Regions from separate parts of the Homo sapiens genome. Here region 1 is linked to region 2. Evidence: fine-mapped expression QTL. A gene starts in region 2. The other region holds a variant in brackets. All regions are shown on one strand. Distances are between the middles of the regions. Region 1 overlaps NANS (N-acetylneuraminate synthase). Region 2 holds the start of NANS (N-acetylneuraminate synthase).

The links.
Region 1: its variant is fine-mapped to the expression of NANS in whole blood (TOPMed, PIP above 0.99).

What each region holds. Positions count from the first base shown.
Region 1 is chr9:98,076,545-98,079,044 of GRCh38, reverse strand. It overlaps NANS (N-acetylneuraminate synthase), which reads right to left. Exons shown (of 6, transcript NM_018946.4): 3 at 2,028-2,127; 4 at 698-852. It also overlaps a transcript of TRIM14 not described here. Among named protein-coding and RNA genes, the nearest start is that of NANS, 21 kb to the right of the region's middle. The variant A/G (reference allele first, on the strand shown) is at 943.
Region 2 is chr9:98,054,932-98,057,881 of GRCh38, reverse strand. It overlaps NANS (N-acetylneuraminate synthase), which reads right to left and starts at 1,150. Exons shown (of 6, transcript NM_018946.4): 1 at 942-1,150. The coding sequence starts at 1,073. It also overlaps a transcript of TRIM14 not described here. RefSeq lists enhancers at 432-551, 1,592-1,641 and silencers at 802-971, 1,052-1,401.

The DNA of each region.
Region 1 (2,500 bases), 21 kb before region 2:
CAGGGATGCTCAGCATTAGAAAATAAGAGAGTCAGCAAATAAAGCAGAAAAAGCCAGGAAGTTTCAAGAAGGCCTCCTATAACTCAGTATGAAAAAAGATGAATATTTATCTGTACGCTAGTGTTCATAGCAGCATCATTCACAATAGCCAAAAGGTAAAATCATCCCAAATGTCTGTTGACAGACAGACTTTTTTTTTTTTTTTTTTCCCCCTGAGAGTCTCACTCTGTCACCCAGGCTTGAGTGCAGTGGTGCAATCTCGGCTCACTGCAACCTCTGCCTCCTGAATTCAAGCGATTCTCCTGCCTCAGCCTCCTGAGTAGCTGGGACCACAGGCACGCATCACCATGCCTGACTAATTTTTATATTTTTAATAAGAAGGGGTTTCACCATGTTGGCCAGGCTAGTCTCGAACTCCTGACCTCAGGTGATCTGCCCACCTCGACCTCCCAAAGTGCTGGGATTACAGGCATGACCCACCGCGCCTGGCCAAGAAAATTTCATTTACAGTCACCCTCTTTAGAATGTATGTGCTTCCTCAACTGCTTAGCTCGAATTTGATTTGGTAACAGCAAGACTGTCAAAGGATGTTCAAATTATAAAGTATGCCATGTTTGTTAGAATTTTGGTTATAAAAAAGACTACGCCTTCCCCATAGTAAATGGCCCAAGAAGGGAACCCCCTCCCTCCTGCTCACCGAGATGACCCGCAGGTTGACGTCCTCAGGCTGGAGCGGGTATGCGCTGGTACACTGCAAGAAGCAGAAGTTGGGGTTGAGGGGCTTCACGATCTGATAAACTTGCTTCATGGTGTCCATTGACTGCATCCCACTGGAGATCACCATTGGGCGACCTGAGTAATCCAGCACCAACACCATCAGCACTTTCTCTTTAGAGGTTCTGACTCTCCCCAACACATCCCAACTGCTGGTCTCATCATTCA[A/G]CTGAACTCCACAGACATCTCTTAAAACACTGTGCCAGCCCCTGTGGGGGAACAGAGAGGAGCTTGTTGGGTTCCTGCCCTCGGCCACAGGAAAGGTGGGCTCCCCTCTGCCCCCCGACAGTGTTCTTGAGCAAAAGGAACTGAATTAAAGAGGCAGAGGAATTTCACACTGCCAAGAGGAAAATGAGTATCTTATCTGATTAATAGGTTGTATACCATGGCAGTACAGTAGAATGAGTGCTGATTCAAGAGTGTGAATGAATGTGAGGTGTGGAGCTGCCACTTCTAGCTGTGCCTGGGCAGAGTACTGTCCGTCTCTGAGTCTCAGAGGCCTCCCCTGTGAAATAAGTATCAAGCATCATAATCATGACCTGTTTCAGTCCTAGGAGTGTTATGAGGATCAAATGAAATTGTTCATGTTGTAAAACCACTTTACACGATCATGTCCCACTGCGGTCTCAAACTCAAGCAATCCTCCTACCTCAGCCTCCCGAGTAGCTGGGGCCACAGTAATGCACCACCATACCCAGCTAGGTTTTATATATACTGTCATATCCTTAATTTCTTATAAATTTTAGTTAAAAAATTTTCTAGGACAGGTGCAGTGGCTCACACCTGTAATCCCAACACTTTGGGAGGCTGAAGTAGGAGGATCACTTGAATCCAGGAGTTCAAGACCAACCTGGGCAACATAGACAGACCTTGTCTCTATTAAAAAAAAAAAAAAATTCTTAAAAAGAATTTCTAAATGTCTTATAAAAACTGTCATATTCTTAATTCATTTTCTTTCAAATTAGCTTACAAAAAATGGAAGTACAGGCTGATTGAAAAGAGGTTTCTGGCAGGGCACAGTGGCTCATGCCTGTAATCCTAGCACTTTGGGAGGTCGAGATGGGAGGATTGCTTTAGGCCAGGAGTTCAAGACCAACCTGGCCAACACAGCGAGACCCTATCTCTATTTAAAAAAATGAAAAGAGGCTAAAATTTGTCTTCATGAAATCTGCTGAAAGTGGGCCACCATGAGGGGAGTAAAAATATGAAGGTTTGGACTCCCTTCGATTTTAAGTCAAAAATTAGACACTTACCTTTTTTGGCTGTCTTTTCCAGATAAGGAAAATTATTAGTGTCTCCAGATCCAACTTTGAAAAATGGAACATTCAGTTCATGCAGGAATTCAACTGCCATCTACAAAAATCAAAGAGGGAGCTCCTTTTCACCATTGTCCAAAAACACTGTTGTTATGACAGGCAAGGAATAACATACAAGTAGAAAAACCCCTCATCTTAGGCAGTAGAGGGACGCTCAGCAACTTGAAAGCAGGCAAAGATTTGTTCTCAGTCATTTCATTCAAATGCAAACATTCATTTGCATCCACCCATCCATTAGCCCAACAAACGTTTGGTGCTGGTCTTTGCTGGCTACAGGAATCTGGAAAAGGGCTGGGCGTGGTGGCTCATGCCTGCACTTTGGGAGGCCGAGGCGGGCAGATCACCTGAGGTCAGGAGTTTGAGACTAGCCTGACCAACATGGTGAAACCCCGTCTCTACTAAAAATATAA
Region 2 (2,950 bases):
CTGGGTGACAGAGCAAGACCCTGTCTCTAACATAGATAAATAAATAAATAAACATTTAAAAAACCTATCACAAATGATACAAAATCAGTTGAGTAGCATTGATGAAGGGAAAGGAAAGATGGGGTGAGCTATCTCTAAACCAAAGAATCATAGTGCAGGCCAGGCCTTATGCTGGGGGCTGGGGTCGTAATGAAGAATATGGCAGTCCCAACAGAAGAGGGAGCACGCATTTACCGACTCATGTGTGCCAAGTGCTGGGCTCAGAGCTCTATCTGAGAATCTCATTTGATCCCCATAACAACTCCATGTGGAAAGAACTGTTGTTTTCAAGCCCCGTTTTCAAATGGGGAAAAGGGTTCACGGAGGCTAAGTAAGCAGCCCATGTTCACACAGCTAGTAGTGGTGGAACTGAGATTTGAACTCAAAGGCCCGGCTTTTAACCACTTCATATTTCATATACAGGGAATGGCGGGTGAGAGAGACCACAGCAACTTCCAGGAACTGTCATTCCTGAAAGTAACTCTGTGTCGCTGAAGAATGTCAGAGAAGAATTATGACGGGCTGGAAGGGGCCCAGTCATTAAAATCTTGAAGGCTATGTTAAAGGGTTTCGACTCTACCCGCGGGCAGGAGGGAGCCACAGAAGGTGCCAGGCAGGGGGGATGGTCTGATCAAGTCTGACTTTTAGAAAGATTATTCTGGCACCAGAACGGGGAGGAAACAGGTCGGGTTAGGAGGCAGCTGCTGTAATGCAGAAAGGTCACGAGGGTGGCGGACACGGTGAGGAAGAGGGATCCGAAGGATTCCGAAAACGGAACTGGCGGGCGGGAAGAGGCCGGACCAGGGTACCCAGCCGCGGAGGCCGTGTGGCCCTGGCTCCCCGCGGCCCCGCCCCGCCCCTCCCGGCGCCCGAATCCCGGGTCCCGGGAGCTGCCGCCTCACCTTGGCCATGCGGATCATGCGCTTGGCTACGTCCAGGTCGCCCTGGTGGTTCTGGCCGATCTCGGCAATGATGAAGCACGGGTGTTGCCCGCCCACCCAGCGCCCGGGACACAGCTCCAGCTCCAGCGGCATTGCAGCGGCTCGGGGTCCAAAGCCTCACTACCAGTCTGGGTCCGGCCGCCGCCGCCGCCGCCTCTACTCTGTTCTGTGAGCAACGCTGCGAGACCCACACGCCAGCCCCGCCACGTCAGCCCGCGGTCGCCGGGCAGCCAATCCCCTAGGCCCCGCCTCTCTCCCGACAGCCAATCGGGGCGGGGGGCGGGGGCGGGGCCTCCCGCGGGAAGGGCGGCGGGGCGGGTCGAGGAAGCTCCGCGGCCCTCTCCTGTGCGAGGCTTGAGGCTTGCTGTCCCAGAGCGTGGTCTCGGACCATCGCGGTATCCGTGCGTGCACCCAGGAGCAAGCATTCCCTGCAGGAGGCGGACGGCTGCCTGCGCAGGGCATAGTCTATGTCCTGCTCTCAGGAGCATGGGGAGAGCGCGCCCTATGGTGTAATGGAAAAAACAGGGTTGCTAGAGTTAGAATCACAGAGCTGGATCGAGTCCAGCCTATGCCAGTCACCAGCTCCTGCTCATATATACGTTACTCAGTCTTCCGGAGCGTTATTTTTGTTTCTCTCTGAAGCAAAAAAATAAAATAGAACTGTGAGATGACGTATAGAAACCCCTGATCACAATACTTGGCTTGTAGTAAGTTTTCAAGAAGTGGCGGAGGTTCCTATTATATGAGAGGCAACAGGTTCGAGAAGTTGCACTGGCTTGTCCAAAGCCATCCAGAAAGCCAAAGCAGAGATGGGACTAGTACCCGGACCTCCCAGCCCCAGGCTCTTAAAATACAATCACCTGGGCGGGCGCGGTGGCTCACACCTGTAATCCCAGCACTTTGGGAGGCCAAGGCAGGCAGATCACCTGAGGTCAGGAGTTCGAGACCAGCCTGACCAATATGGAGAAACCCCGTCTCTACTAAAAATACAAAAAAATTAGCCGGGCGTGGTGGTGCGTGCCTGTAATCCCAGCTACTCGAGAGGCTGAGGCAGGAGAATCGCTTGAACCCGGGAGGTGGAGGTTGCAGTGAGCCCAGATCACACCACTGCACTCCAGCCTGGTGACACTGCAAGACTCTGTCTCAAAAATAAATAAATTAATTAATTAATTTAAAAAATAAGATAAGTTATTTCCCAAAATAAACCTCCTTCTTTCCTGGGAACTAGACTGCCTTTGTAGGACTAACAAATTAGCCACAAGATTAGACACGTAGGAGTCATGCACCTGGAGGCTACAAGATTCTGACCCTCCCCAAATTGCTCCTGGGGATAACATCACTATTGTAAAACCTAAGACCAGTGCTTGAGATATTTTGCAGACCCTGCACTTGATGGATCAGCTGGCACCACCAGATTGATAAACTGGTTCATCTGATCTTGTGTCCCCCAACCAGGAACTGACTTGGCACAAGAAGACAGCCTTGACTTTCTATGATTTTATCTCCAACACAACCAATCAGCACTCCTGGCATACTGGCCTCTCTTAACCCACCACATTATCCTTAAAAACTCTGATCTCCAAGGTGGGGCATAGTGGCTCACACCTGTAATCCTAGCACTTTGGGAGGCTGAGGCGGGTGGATCACCTGAGGTCAGGAGTTCGAGACCAGCCTTGCCAACATGGTGAAACCCTGTCTCTACTAAAAATACAAAATGAGCCAGGTATGGTGGTGCATGCCTGTAATCCCAACTACTTGGGAGGCTGAGGTAGGAGAATCGCTTAAACCTGGGAGGCGGAGGTTGCAGTGAGCTGAGATTGTGCCATTGCACTCCAGCCTGGGCAACAAGAGCGAAACTCCATTTCAAAAACAAACAAACAAAAACCCCAAAAACCTCTGATCCCTGAATGCTAGGGGAAATTGATGTGAGTAATAATAAAACTCAGCCAGACTGCACAGCTGGCTCTGCA